Linked DNA regions of Homo sapiens. The protein of the gene in region 2 interacts with the protein of the main gene of each other region in a biochemical or structural test. Each region holds a gene or a part of one and is shown on either strand. Other genes may lie near its edges.

What was found. Proteins that work in one complex are often made in the same cells at the same time.
Region 1: the proteins of ITK (region 2) and LCP2 form a complex in vitro, tested with the Homo sapiens proteins (2 studies listed by BioGRID, with this or other methods).

Annotation. Positions count from the first base shown.
Region 1 is NC_000005.10:170,266,778-170,273,777, reverse strand, and holds part of LCP2 (lymphocyte cytosolic protein 2), read left to right. Parts: intron 1-2,860; coding exon 2,861-3,059; intron 3,060-5,295; coding exon 5,296-5,393; intron 5,394-6,702; coding exon 6,703-6,769; intron 6,770-6,886; coding exon 6,887-6,970; intron 6,971-7,000. UniProt on the Homo sapiens protein: Adapter protein primarily involved in signaling pathways within T-cells, as well as other immune cells such as platelets, mast cells, and natural killer (NK) cells.
Region 2 is NC_000005.10:157,239,082-157,247,477, reverse strand, and holds part of ITK (tyrosine-protein kinase ITK/TSK), read right to left. Parts: intron 7,417-8,396; coding exon 7,283-7,416; intron 5,833-7,282; coding exon 5,758-5,832; intron 3,856-5,757; coding exon 3,684-3,855; intron 3,217-3,683; coding exon 3,000-3,216; intron 1,753-2,999; coding exon 1,688-1,752; intron 1,598-1,687; coding exon 1,479-1,597; intron 1-1,478. UniProt on the Homo sapiens protein: Tyrosine kinase that plays an essential role in regulation of the adaptive immune response. Regulates the development, function and differentiation of conventional T-cells and nonconventional NKT-cells.

The DNA of each region.
Region 1 (7,000 bases), about 13 Mb from region 2:
TGATTTTTACATTGAAAGGTCACAGTTCCCCCTCTGAGAGTCTGACGGATTGTACAACCCCTCCCCAGGAACCTGTATACACAGTCACCACCCATGAAGCAGTCTCAGGCTAAGAACTCTATTATGGACCGTAGCCCAATCTGTTCATTTTACAGATGAGGCAACTGAGTCCACAGGAGAGCAGAACGTGACGTGCGTAGAACACAAAGTTAGTTAGAGGCAGACCTAGGACCCAGGTAACCAGACCCTCAGTCACGTGGGCCTTCTGGTAAGAGGCCACCTCTAGTGCCTTCAGAAGGCAGAAACAAACTGTCCCTTGACCTATTGGGATTCTGGTAAAAGAAAGTATTTAATTGGAAAAAAAACAAAAAAAAGATTTAGCTAAGTTTATGCTTTCTACCTGAAAATGAAGGAATTTGACAGATTTCTCTGGTACAAAGGGAAAATAGCCCAGAGTTTCCGCTGGAATGTTTCTGTTTACTCACAGAGGCAGAATCCTTGCCATGCAGCCTCTCTTGTGCTGTGCCTGAGGCTAGTCTTCGATCCTCTCTGTAAACTGAGGGCTTCCATTCACTAGTGGCTATAGAGCTTGGCAGCTCCGTTATGTGCCCAGCTCTTTGCAAGGGCATACTGGGAAATGAGTGGAGATAAAGGACCCAATCATAAGCATTTTACAGTATGGATACCCCATTTTAAAAAGGTAAACTGAGGCACAATGCAATTTTTTTTTTTTTTTAAGGAGTTTATTTGAGCAAACAGTGATTCATGAATCAGGCAGCACCAAACCAGAAGGAGGCTTTGCTGAAGAAGGATGAGGGACAAGCATTTATAAAGTGAATGTAGATGTAATACAAAGAAAATATTTGAACCGGGTGCGGTGGCTTACACTTGTAATCCCAACACTTTGGGAGGCCAAGGCGGGCAGATCACAAGATCAAGAGATCGAGACCATCCTGGTCAACATGGTGAAACCCCATCTCTACTAAAAAATACAAAAATTAGCTGGGCGTGGTGGTGCGTGCCTGTAGTCCCAGCTACTTGGGCGGCTGAGGCAGGAGAATTGCTTGAACCCGGGAGGTGGAGGTTGCAGTAAGCCGAGATTGCACCATTGCACTACTCCAGCCTGGTGACAGAGAGAGACTCCATCTCAAAAAAAAAAAAAAAAAAAAAAAAAAAAAAAGAAAATATTTGATGGGTTACAGTTATAACCGATCTCATTTAGTCTATCTTGCTGGAAAGCTCCTAGTTATATAATTATGAGTTGGCTGGCTACTTCTGATTGGTTGGGCTTAAGTTCTGTTTTTCTTTAATACAGGCATTTACAAGAAATAGCCCAAGTTAACTTTTGCTTATGCTGCAAATCAAGTAAGGTTTAGGTCACTGATGAGGCCCAACTGGTTTTGTCTGCTCAGGGATTCTTCAGGCCTGGTCTCCATTTTAATTTACTTTAACACACATATGGCAGAATATAATTAGCAACAACATCATGCATACAAATTTAGGAGCCAAATGATTGGGAGAAAATAATTGTTCTAGAAGCAGAGAGGAAAATTCTGTCATTTGAGAAAGGTTGATGGGGTAAAGAGCTGGTGTAAAGTCAGGAATGATGGGCCTAGGGTAGACAGGGTGAGGAAAGGGTCAGCAGCCTGGAGGGAGGCCACGTGCCTGCGGACCTCCATGCTGAGGCTCTTGATCTGAAGCAGCATTCCTCTGGGGCTCTGCCCACCTGCTCCTAAAGTTATAAGAACCCTGACAGGGCAGGACAAAGTCTTTTTTTGGAGTTGGGAAGGCACCCAATGCTCACTTTGCCCCTCTGTTGTTGATGTTTTTAATATTCCTCAAGTCAAAAACAAACACAGGACTCTCTCAACAGAACAACGTAAAGACAGTCTGCCTGAGGCCACCCAAAGCTGTCAGGATTTCTAGGACACTGGAACATTTCTTTCCTCAAAAAGTGGCCACTTCCCATTGCTTTTTCCCACACTGCCCTTGAGTGTTGAGGTCTGGGCTCATTGACTCACCCCCTGGACTTTGGCATGACCATGATGAGCGCTCATCACTGCTGCTGATGGTGCCGCCTTTGCTTGGGAGGTCATTCTGATGCTCATTCACCTTCATGGACTGCTTCAAAGGCAAGCATCCAGCACCTCGGGCTTACTTTCCCTGAGATCCAAGAAGAAGCAAAAATAAAATACAATAAAAAATCTAAAATTTAGAGATTCTTTCCAAGAGAACAGCTTCAAACTCAGTGTCAGATTTCATGAATAATGGATGTGTTGATACACTCAACTTTCAGCAAAAAGAACAGCACAGCCTCTGACGGTCCCCTCCTCGACACAACTTAATCTGCCTTCCACTTAACAGGCTTTGTTTATCTGTTTTTCCCCTTAGCCGGGCCTTCAACGCTGCACCAGGTTATAATGAGAGGACATTTTTTGAGCACAGGCACCCTTGAACAGAAATGGCAATTAACTAGTATCATCACAAATGCTCCAGGCCTTTAGTCTTTCTCATGGTGATGCCTGGAGCAAAAAATGTGTTTACTCAAGACAGAGCCTATTCCGGTACCTTCTATTCCAGCATCCTTCCCCTTTCTTCTCTCTCTGTTGTGCAGAAAGGTGTTGTGTAAAAAGGTGGTCCGAAGACCTTCACCAAGGTCTCAAGTCCATGACTTGCTGCCCCTGTGGTACAGTGCTCCCTGACCTCAGATTCCTCATCTGTAAAATGGGAGTAACCATCTTCAGGCTGCCTGGTCCCGGGTTATACTGTTGTGAGGCTTGGCAGGGAGAGAGTAGGCACAGGCACATCGAGGGCCACAGAGCCTCTACAAACTGCACTGTCCCTATCACTGTGTGGGCAGGAAGAAGACGATTATGAAAGTCCCAATGATGACCAGGATGGGGAGGATGATGGAGACTATGAGTCCCCCAATGAGGAGGAAGAGGCACCCGTGGAAGATGACGCGGATTATGAGCCGCCACCCTCCAATGACGAGGAAGCTCTGCAGAACTCCATCCTGCCTGCCAAGCCTTTCCCCAACTCCAACTCCATGTACATCGGTAAGGGCCCGTTTCCGGATTTTCTGGCCCGAGCAGCCCAAAGGCAAGCTCGCCACTGCTGCATGGAAGGCTGATGCCCCAGCTTGCCCATGTAGCAGAAAGCTCTGGGTCTCGATATCTGCTCGGCTTCTTAACAGCTATGTGGCTTTGTACAAGTAACTCTGTCTCTCTGGGCCTCAATTTCCTCATCTGTGAAATAGGATAATAAATGTACAGACCACATAGGTTTCCTGTGAGGACTACTAAGACTGCAACCAATTCTTGCCTATGGTGGCTGATATCAGCATTGAACTACCACCTAAGGCTATTTGGCAGTTTCAACTCATTCTGCAGTTTACTCAGGTACTCCAAGAGTACTTTCCTGTTCCTCCCCATCTTTTGACCAAATTATAGTTACATGGCATTATTATGCTAGAATAAACATGAAGATATTGAGTAGGGTTTGACTATAACTTTAAAAAATATTAGATGGTGTTTACGATTTTTATTGTCTATCTGTCCTTTTAGCCCACTTCTCTCTCCATTCATTCAACAAACATTGTTGATCTGCTGGGAGCCCAGGCCCCATTCTCAGTGCTTAGAAATGATCAGGAAAGAAGAAATAGCCCCTGCCTCCTGGGGCTTACATTCTAGTAGTGGTGTTGACAGAAAATAAACAAATATATTCTTAAATAATATACTTTCAGAGAGTACGCTGAAAATTGAAGGTCAGTACCACAAAAAACGAATACCATTTAATCCTTTATGCGGTATAACCCATTTCCATTTTAAAGCCCTTTCACAAAATGCTGTCTCAATATCTCATGGTGGTTTTTAAACATCTGTGTAATAAGGACAACCATGATCAAGTCTGTTTCATATACAGGGAAGTGGAGGTCCGGAAAAGCAATGGATGAGTCAGTTGTTGAGTGCCTTGTGTGTGCCAGTCATTAAGATACAGAGTGAATAAGACAGCCCTCGCCAAGGGACTGACAGTCTGGCAGGTGACGCACCCTCCAACAAATGAGCCATGAGGTTACTTGGTGAAACCGTGATACAGAGGCACGAAGACAAGCACAGATGAGGCTGGAGCGTTTGCCTGAGGGTGTATCTTTAAGCTGTGATATTAAACCAAGGTTAAAGGATAAATACAAGTTGGCCAAGTGGAAATGGATGTGGTAAGGGAAGAACATTTGGAGCAGTAGAAATGGCTGTGCAAAGGCCCTGAGGCTCAAAGGAGCATGGCCTATTAGAGAAGCTGAGAGATGGCCAGTGCGGGTGGAGCAGGGTGGAATTAGATCAGGCTGGGCCTTGCTCCTACCCTTTTCCCTGTGGAAGAGCTGCACCTCCCCAAGGCTGGGACTAGAGTCGGGCAAGAGAGGCACCCAGGGCACAAAGCGTAAGGAGGCCCTACCCACTCACCCCTCTTGCTTGATGGTCTTGTCCTGGCCTTTCCCTGTCAAAGGGGTAGGAAATTGCCAGCCTGTCAACCTGGCCTAGGGACACTTCCGTGGAGATGTGGATAATGTGAGTTTCTGCCCAGATAATGTGAGTTTCTGCTCGAGGCAAATCTAGCTTCCACTTAAGAGTCTGTGGTCTGGTAACAGAAGTTGGTGATCAGCTCCTCCCTTTATGGGAAGAGATGAGCAAAATGAGGAAGTGTCAGGGAGGAGATAGCCCAGGACACTGGAGAGGGGAAGGAAGGGCAGACAGAACAAGATCCCTATGGCAGTGAGAGCTGACTTCACCCTGCACAGGCAGCTGGGTGTGCCTGTGAGATTTTTGGCATGTGTGTGTGTCTGTGTGCACTCGTGTCTCTGTGTATGCAGGTGTGTGCATATATATGCATGTGTGTGCATGCATGTGTGCACATGTGTATATCTGTGTGTCTGCATACAGAGGTATGCGTATGTTTACTTCTTACAAAATTGTCTGAAAATCCTCCCTTCCAGTTCTGGCTGAGCTGGTTACAAAGAGGCCTTTCTTGATTGGCAAAATCTCTGATAAATACCTATTCCTGTGAAATGCAAAGAAAGCTGAGCCTGTGTATAAGGAGAGTGACACAAACTAGGACAGAAAAAATGGGCAGGGAGGGGTGGGTGAGATCCAGGCTGGGTCTCCCCGTGGCTGGGGCTCATGTGGGCCTGGGGGTCAAGGATCATGCACCCCCGGTGCCCCGAGCTGCATATCTGTTCCTGGAGACCCCTGAGCTTGGCCGATACTCCCCTTTCACTTTAATAACCTTGTGTTTCCACAGACCGGCCCCCCTCTGGGAAAACCCCCCAGCAGCCTCCTGTGCCCCCCCAGAGACCGATGGCCGCCCTCCCGCCCCCACCAGCCGGCCGGAATCACTCGGTAGGCCTCCTCCCGTTCTTTTACAGTACTTGGTGTCCACTGCAGTTATTTCCTCCGCCAGAGAGAAAAATAAAACTATAAACATCTTTATCTCATTCTAATTTTGTAAGAAAAGATTATAATCTTTTCCCTCGGCTGGGGAAAGGCAAACCCAAGCATTCACACGTGTTTCTTTTTTGGGGTAAAATACTGGTGGTTTTTATTTACTTCCCACTATTTGAGAGAAGTGAAAACTGTAAAATAAACCCAAAGAGAACCGAATTAAGTCCGTGGCACCTACTGGTGTTGCCTGGGTACCGAGCCTTCCTCTCTCCTGCAAAAAGACTTGCGCCACCTTCTGGCCGACACCTGAAATTCCAAGGACAGGAGCCTTCAGACCGGAGGAGACAGAGGTAGCAAACCCCGTTTTCTCCTTCTTCGAGCATACAGCCCGGTCCTTGTGAATCTGATAAGTTCCCAGAGTGACCCTGAGAAGCTCAGACTAAGGACTTGATAGTTAGGAATGTGTTCCCTTCACAAGTTTATCTACAGATGTATATTGCTTTTGAGATTTGAAGACCTTCTTTTGAGATGCAGGATTCACTTATTTAATCAGCAAATATTGTCTGAGCAGCTACTATGTGCCAAGCAGAGTTCTAGGCGTTGGGGATAAAGTGTGAACAAGATAAATAAGGTCCCTGCTTTCATAAAACTCAACTAGGGCTAGTTATCAGACGGTAGACAGATGTCTGAAAGAGATCATTTGAGTAGTTATGTGTGGTTCGGGGGACGGAAGACCAGGTAACATGACGGTATGGGGGGGGGAGGTGACAAGGACCTGGGACAGAATGAGCCAGTTGTGGGAAGAGCCGGGAGAAGAACGTTCTAGGCAGAAGGAAACAAGTGTAGGGATGCCAAAGAGGGCATAACCTTGAGATTTTCCAGGAACTGCAAGAAGATTCTATGGTAGGGACCCCATGAGTACTGAGAAGGGATCACAGGAAAGAGTTGAGAGGGCAGACATGGGCCAGCTCAGGCAGGGCCTCGCAGGACATTAACGAGTTTCAATTTTGTTTCTAATGTGATAGGAGGCTTAGCAGGAAAGTGACATGCTCACTCTGCTGCCTGCAGAAAAGAGCTTGCGTGGCAGAGTCTAGAACAGGGAGCTCAGATAGGAGGCTACTGCGGTAGTTCAGTGAAGAAATGGACATGGATGTTTGTAGGCAGAACATGAAGATGAGGAAAAGTGAGCAGATCCAGACAGGTTTTGGGAGTGCCGGCTCTTGCTGATGTATTGGAAGTGCTTCCTAACGTTTGGATCTTTATGCAGCCACTGCCCCCACCCCAGACCAACCACGAAGAACCCAGCAGAAGCAGAAACCACAAAACGGCAAAGCGTGAGTACAAGGGCTGCTCTCTCTTGCCCTGTTCCCACCAGGCACTCCCCTAGCCCCGCCCAACCCCCAGCCGACTGCTTTCTTCTTTTAATTGATGTCAGCCTTTTCCCCTTCCAGTCCCTGCTCCTTCAATAGACAGAAGCACGAAACCTCCCCTAGATCGTTCATTAGCTCCGTTTGATAGAGAACCCTTCACACTAGGTGGGTATGATTCACATTTAATGCATAGTA
Region 2 (8,396 bases):
GTCTCATTGTGGGGCCCTTGCTTGCTTGGTGCAGTGTGATCAGTTTCATCACCCATAGTGAGATGACTGCACATCAGCCCCAACCTTCCTAGTTATACACACTGGGGAGAGGGGAGTCATCCAAAAATGCTGTTAGTACAATTTCTTTCAAGTCCATTCTGTAACTTAAACCTGGTTAACAAAGTAGCTGCAAGGGTTGGTTAATAGGGTACTGTTTTAAGAAATAGGTAGGACTCATAATGAACAAACCACTTGGCTCCTAGAGATGGATAGACTAAAATGCTGCAGAAGATTTTTAACACTCATTCTTCTCCTAAAAGATTTACCTAGCCAAACTCCCCCCTGGTTTCTACTACTAGTAAGCCCTTGTCAAACCCTTCCTTCATACCGAATGGCAAAAATCAATCTTCAAGTAGTTTCTGTCCACAGTATAATTCTTGTAATCCAAATCAAAGAGGTTGTCTGGTATATTTTTTTGCACACTTTAGTATGCACAAACTATGACTTCAGGTGACATGGCAAATCCAGCAAGAACATTTGGCACATCCTGCAATACCAACATCATTCATCCCTTCATGGCCATTTGCACTTTTTAGAAATTCTAATTCCTTATGATGGCCTACCAGCTTCATTGCCTGTTGTTCTCCCAATAAGTCAGTACCCCTTGTTCTTTGGATGCACCAAGTTTTTGCACTTGCTGGTCCCTCTGTCAGGGACACTGTTCCCTGGCTCTTCAAATGGTGACAGCTCCCTCCTATCATTCAAGTCTCTGCTGAAGAATTACCTTCTGAGAAAGGCCTTCCCACACCACACTATTCAAAGCAGACCCTCTCTCTATCCTAGTCACTCTGCCCCATTACTGTTTTATTTTATTCATAGCACCTACTTATGATTGCCTGGCTTTATCTTCTATCCCTTAGCTTGTTTATTATTATTATTGTTTATGACTGTTATTATGATCTTTTGTGATTTTCTGTCTCCCCTCCCATCTCAAATTTAGTTCCAAAAGAACAGAAGTCTTTTCTGTTCTATGAACCACTGCATCCTCAGCACCTAGATTAGCCCTTGGCATAGAATAGATGATCAGTTAATTGTTGTTGAATGAATGAATAAATATTAATACTTATTGAGAGATAAGTATGGAAATGTAGTGTTGGACAAAACATGGTCCCTGCCTTCAAGGGGCTCATATTTGAATCTCCTGACTTCTCCAGCTTTTGACTTCACAGCAGCTGGCACCAGAACTCTTGTTTCCACTTTTAATTAACTCCCACCACCATGTCCAGTATCTCTAAAAACAAACAAAATGATGAAGGCCCTTTCATAGTTTTCGGGGCCTTTCTTACACAACCCTCCAGTGGGACACCCTCATGATATGATACAGGGTTCAGTGTGGGTAGGGTTGTCTGCATTTGATAAAGGAAACAGCTGGCCTGAAGCCCAGATCATGGGGCAGTGGGGCCCAGCATGACACTCACCAAATGACCACACATCGGACTTGCTGCTATAGCGACTGAAAGAGAAAACCTCTGGGGATGCCCACTTCACCGGGAATTTGGTGCCTGTGGAACTGGTGTACTGATCATCCAGAACGAACCTGGGAAGAGAGTGGAGGGAGAAGGTCAGAATGTTCCGGGGGCCTCAGTCCCATTCCTGAGACTTCACCGGCACCACATCCCTCTTTTACCTTGTCATCCCAAAGTCAGACACCTTGATGACTTGGTTTTCTCCCACCAAACAATTTCTGGCAGCCTGGAGAGGAGACAGGCAAACAAAGGCGGAGAGGAAAACTGTTGATGAGTCATCAGTAGTTAAGGAGTCTCCTATAATCACAGTCCTTTGCTTTACTGCAGTGCTGTCATACAAGGGCATCATGGAGCTTTACAAATGTTAATTAAGCCTCACAAATGCCGCTGGAAGTTAACTGGAAAGTTGAATGTGTAAGATCCACTATCAAGATGAGTAAGTTTATCTTCATTCTTGAGTTCTAATTAGAAATCCTTGGTGTTGTCTAACCAAAGATAGGCTCTAATGCAACCTGATGTGATAGGAAATGTTAACATCAGGGATAACAGGAAGAAAGCATCTCCCAGTTGACTAAATTAAGAATGTTTTGATGTTGTTAATCCTCTTAAAACTGTTCTTCAATAGGGAGAGTACCTGACCCCTAATTAGTATTATAGACTGTTGCATTGAAAAAGCCATTGGAGATAACACTCCAGTGTGTCTCAATTTTTTTTTTTTTTTTTTTTTTAGATGGAGTCTTACTGTGTCACCCAGGCTGGAGTGTAGTGGCTTGATCTCAGCTCACTGCAACCTCTGCCTCCTGGGTTCAAGTGATTCTCCTGCCTCAGCCTCCCAAGTAGCTAGGGTTACAGGTGCCCGCCAGTAAGCTCAGCTAATTTTTTGAATTTTCAGTAGAGATGGGGTTTCACCATGTTGGCCAGGGTGGTCTCGAACTCCTGACCTCGTGATTCGCCCACCTCGGCCTCCCAAAGTGCTGGGAGTACAGGCATGAGCCACCGCACCCAGCTGCATATCTCAAATTTTAATGTGCATACAAATCATACGGGGAATGTGTTAAAATGAATATTCCTGAGTCCCAGCCACCAGAGATTCTGAGAGTAGCTTAAGGGCTTCCCCAGTGTGATTCTGGTAGACCCTTGAATAATACCTTCAGACAAACTCAGTTTCCTCAATTTACCAGGAGGAAATTGAGTCACAGAGAGGTTAAGAAGGAGTGGCAGTTATCTCCATTTTGGAAGAATATAAACTGAAATGCAGGAGGTGAAAGAGTTTGGGCTGGGATCAGAGCCCAGAAGTAAGTCCTCATGAAGCCCTTTCCACTAGGACCACCCAAAGTAGGTGAAGGAAGGGAGAAGTTGAGAAAGGAAAGGAGATTATCTGTAATGTATTATTTATTAATGCGTTCCCAGTCATTTCAGTGAGAACTGTCCCTTTACCCTGGACCTGTGGGTGTTCACCCTGCATGCTCATACCAAGTCTCTGTGGATGACACATGCCTCTTCCAGGTAGGCCATGCCCTCACACACATCCAGACACATGCCCAGCAGGGTCTCTGCAGCAAAAAGTCCCCGCTGGGTGCGTAGATAATCTGACAGGCAGCCGTGCTCCATGAACTCAAACACCAGGCAGATGGGGGCCTGCTCCAGGCACACCCCATACAGCTGCACCAGTTTGGGATGAGAGAGTTTCCTGGAGGAAAAAGACAAGGGGTGAGATGGCCTAAACTCAGTCTCCCAAAAATGCCGAAAATATTATGGTACCAAAATAGCCAATGGTCATTTTGTCTAATTTATGGTTTGGATGAAAATAATATTCATTCCCTCCCCAAAACAAAAACATGTCATTGGAGCTGAGACCTGAAAAATGGCAAGGAGTCAGCTGTGTGTGTGAAGATGAGCAGAGGCCAGTGTGGCTGGCATGTCATGGACTGGAGGAGAGATGGGTAGGAGCTGAGAAGGGGGAGGTGGGCATGATCAGATTATGGTGGGCCTTGGAGACCACTGTGAAGAGTTTGATTGTATTCTCTGTGCAATAGGAAGCCACTGCTGGGAGTTTGCGCAGGGAGATAGTACCCCCTGGCGTTTGAATGGCATTTCAAGAACACTGAACCGATGTTCCCCCCAGAGTTTCTGCATATCCTTGTTCTGAGCACTCACATCATTACTTCAGCCTCCTCTATGAAGTCCTCTTCTGACATAGCCCCTTCCCGAATGGTTTTGATAGCCACCTTGTCCTTGTTGAGCCAGTAGCCCAGATGCACCAACCCAAATTGCCCACTGCCAATCTCTTGCACAAAAGTGAGCTCTGAGGGGTCGATCACCCATTTCCCTGGAAGAGAGAGAGAGAGTTCTCTGGGGTCAGCAAGCAGTAGATATAAGGTATTGGGATACCAGGGGACTATAAAGCCCTAACTAGAATTTTAGCCTATTGTTAATATAATTCAAAGATGGCAAATAAATTATCTTTTTCCCACATAATAACATAGGATATGCTAGAAAACTATGAAAATATGTGTGGGAAGGTAACATGGAAAGAAGGAGAGTGGCATTAATGAAGATATTAAAGAAACCATATTAATCAAAATATTAAAGAAAGGGTTCTTGCAATGTCCCATTTTTCTATGTCATTTTTCACACTAAGTAAATTTCATTGAGCTGATCATTCTTTCATTCATTCATCTATTAAGAGCACCTGCTATATACACATAACCCTATTAGGCCTTACTGGGGCAGAGGGGCAGTTAAAGAGAAAGATTTAAAGAGAATTTGTGCAGAGGCACAAGCTAGCACAGTGTCTGGCACATGGGAGGCTCTCAAGAAATGTTTAACAAACAAATACGAGATTCCGAGGCTCAATTTCCTCACCAACAAAATGAGTAGGCTGACCAGGTAATATCTGAAATCCCATCCAGCACGGACACATCAAGATTCTACATTTATTAGAATACCCTTATTTTCATAAGGAGGCTAAAGAGGCACTCTTTCCCCAGTGCTTGGTCTGGTACCTAAACAGCCAGATTTCCACTGCTTTGAGGCAGAGACTCAACAGCAGGCAGTATTGAGCACCTACTGTGTGCCGGACACGGTGCTGGTTAGGGATAAAGAAGCCCATGCGTGGCAGTGGTTCTCAAAGTATTGCCCTCTGACCACTTGTATCAAAATCACCTAGCATGCTTGTTTAAAATGTAGACTCAGCTGGGCACAGTGGCTCATGCCTGTAATCCCAACACTTTGGGAGGCTGAGGCAGGAGGATTGCCTGAGCCCAGGAGTTTAAGACCAGCCAGGGCAACATAGTGAGACCCTGTCTCTACAAAAAATTTTTAAAAATTAGCCAGGCATAGTAGCTACTTGGGAGGCTGAGGTGGGAGGATCGCTTGAGCCCAGGAGGTCAAGGCAGCAGTGAGCCATGATTACGCCACTGCATCTCCAGCCTGGGTGACAGAGGGAGATCATGCCAGAAAAAAAAGTAGACTCCAGGACCCTATCAAGGATTGTGTTTTGGTGAGTGTTTGGATAGGAGCCAGGAGTCAACATTTTTAATAAGCATTCTAGAAGACTTTGATGCACACTGAAATTTGAGAACCACCAAGCTAGGAGATAAGAAATGAAAATTAGACCAGCCTTCTCCACAGGCAGCACACAGTTGGGACCAAGGGATGCAAAGCCAAATGCCTTCAGAGTCCAGGCAGGTAATCCCAAGTGAGTGAAGCAATTCCGTAGGGCAAGAAAACATAGTAGGGGCTGCGGCACTGGAGATCATGCCACGCCTAAAGGTATTCCAAAGAATTTTAACACTCTCTTATGCAGAGAAACACTTCTAGATGCTCTCAACTTGCAGTTCTGGCAATAGTCTGCTACTCAACCAACTAGATGATATAAAAGTTCTAGAAGATAGGTGGAAACACAGTGCTAAGGCATGGTTTTCTAATATTTTTCTAATAGCATTTAGTAGGGTGCTCTGTACAAAGTAGGTGCTTAATAAACACTTCATTAATGAACTCTTCACTAAAACCAATGGCCACTGGTTTGACCTAGAGAAATGTGCTTGTATATGTACTTCTCTTACACACAATGTAAATATTCATTAGTGCCATCATCTCTAGATATATAATACACTTGTTTTAATGGTGATTTGTAGTCTGAGGAACAGGTAGGCTCATGGCCAGTTTATTCAGAATTTGCCCCAGACCTTTAGGGACATGAGTTTACATTCCTGATTGTACTGCTCACCGTATCTCAGCCCTGCTGTAACTGGGGCTTTCTGCCTCCCAAAACAAACTGGATACCGGAGTCGAGTCACCAGGCCTGGGTTGATTGAAAAGCCAAGAAGCAGTGGTTAGGGCTTTGCTCTAGCAACCATCTAACTTAAATCACTAAAAAAAATAATAATCATCATCAGACGCAAAAGCTAATTTTATTCTGGAAAACAAATCCCAAAGCCTAATTATTGATATCATATCCTCCTTGAAAACATCATAAGCACAGATGGGCAAGTGGTAAAATTCCATTATTTCCACAAGATAGCTTGCTAATAGAAGATATATAATATAATTAAATATTTGTCATATTTTTCTATTTGTATATTTATTTATTATTTATAGTCAAAAAGAAGCCAGGGCGAGCTTTTGCCAGTTTTCATTAAGTCTCCTGTGTGGGTGCTGATATAGTTTGGATGTTTGTCCCCTCCAAATCTCATGTTGAAATGTAATCCCTGGCTGGGCACTGTGGCTTACACCTGTAATCCCAGCAGTATGGGAGGCTGAGGCGGGCAGATTACCTGAGGTCAGGAGTTCAAGACCAGCCTGGCCAATGCGGTGAAACCCTGTCTCTACAAAAAATACCAAAATTAGCGGGATGTGGTGGCACATGCCTGTAATCCCAGCTAATCAGGAGGCTGAGGCAGGAGAATTGCTTGAACCTGGGAGGTGGAGGTTGCAGTGAGCCAAGATTGAGCCACTGCACTCCAGCCTGGGCAACAGAGCGAAACTCTGTCTCAAAAAAAAAAAAAAGAAAGAAAAGAAAAGAAAGGAAAAGAAAGAAAAGAAAAGAAAAGCCCTATGTTGGAGGTGGGGCCTGGTGGGATGGGAGGTGGTGTTTGGGTCATTAGGTGGGATCCATCACAAATGCCTTGGTGCTGTCACTGTCCTTGTGATAATAAATGAGTTATCACTCTGAGTTCATGCAAGACCTGGTTGTTTAAATGTCTGTGGCATCTTCTCCCTCCTCGCTCCTGCTCCTGCCATGTGATACTCCTGCTCCCCTTTTGCCTTCTGCCATGACTGAAAGCTTCCTGAGGGCTCCCTAAAAGCCAAGAAGATGCCGGCACCATGCTTCCTATACAACCATGGACCAATTAAACCTCTTTTCTTTATAAATTACCCAGCCTCAGGTATTCCTTGATAGCAATTCAAAAAAGTCTAACCCAGGTGCCCTCTGGCTTTGTCCTCTAGAGCAGCAGTCCCCAACCTTTTTGGCACCAGGGATCGGCTTTGTGGAAGACAGTTTATCCATGGAGGGATGTGGCAGGGGGTTGCTTTCAGGATGAAACTGTTCCATCTCAGATCATCAGGCATTTGATTCTTATAAGGAGCACACAACCTAGATCCCACAAGTGCTGTTCACAATAGGGCTTGCACTCTTATGAGAATCTAATGACGCTGATCTGACAGAAGGCAGAGCTCAGGCAGTAATGCTTGCTCACCTGCTGCTCACCTCCTGCTGGGCGGCCCGGGTCCACCCCTGCTCTAGAGCTTACCTCCTCCATTATGTTGGTGATAGTTGATGAGAAGAGGGATGGAATCGAACACATACTTTTCAGCCACATAGTATCGCTTAGGATTGTCATTTGTTTCCTTGATGTGATAATGCTTTATACAGGGATTGTTCTCACTTAAACAAATGAAACACAAATGTAATGATTATTAAGAAGCAATGTTGAGACACAAAAAAGTCTACGAGTATTAAGTTCTTATTATCTTTGTCTTATAACCTCTCACAAGGTGGCAGATATTGTTCAACTTATAAGTCTGTCTTGACAGATTGGGCCTGGGTGCTGCAGTACTGTGTTAAAAAGGACTCTGAGGTTGTGTCTGGACCCAGTGGACAGCAATGCTGTGATGGATTGGTGATGGTTCTTCCATTGCCACAAAATGAGGGAATGGAAATATTTGCTATGTGTTTGCCTTGCCTATTCTATGAATTTAACTGATTGTCAGCATACATTGAGAAAGCCTCTCTGACCCCTTCACCCTTATTTGACTTCATAAGTCAAATAAGCTGCAGAGGATGAACATAACAGGCCTGACTACCCTCCTTAGAAAGACCTGCTTGCATGGTTAACCCTTGGCTGGTGTTTGGGAACTTGGATTTCGGGAGGGCTCTTTCCCTAACTGATAAGGGTGGCGAGCTGTACCTAAACCGTCTGCTAGAAACATGTGTTTTATGGTGAACGCTTGTTTTCCTTTTGGGTATCTGGAACTTTGGCATGTGCTAGGCAGGGGCTGTCTGTGGAAACAGCCTCCAATAAAAGCCTTGGGTACTGAGTCTCTAATGAGCTCCCCTGGTAGACTGCTAACGTGTGGTTACAACTTGTTGCTGGCGGAATTAAGCACGTCCTGTTTGGCTCCAGTGGGAGAGGACTCTTGGAAGCTTGTGTTTTGTTTCCTCTAGATTTTGTCCCATGTGTCTTTTCCCGTTGCTGATTTTGCTTTGTATCACTTTGCTGTATTAAATCTCAATAAGTCTTTGTCCTGGAAGGCCTCCTAGTGAATCCCTGAAGCTGGGGGTAGTTGTGGGGAGCCTCGACACAGACTTTGTTTCATCCCTTCTCCGTCATACCTGTGGGGTTGCAGGTCACCTCCTTACTGTCT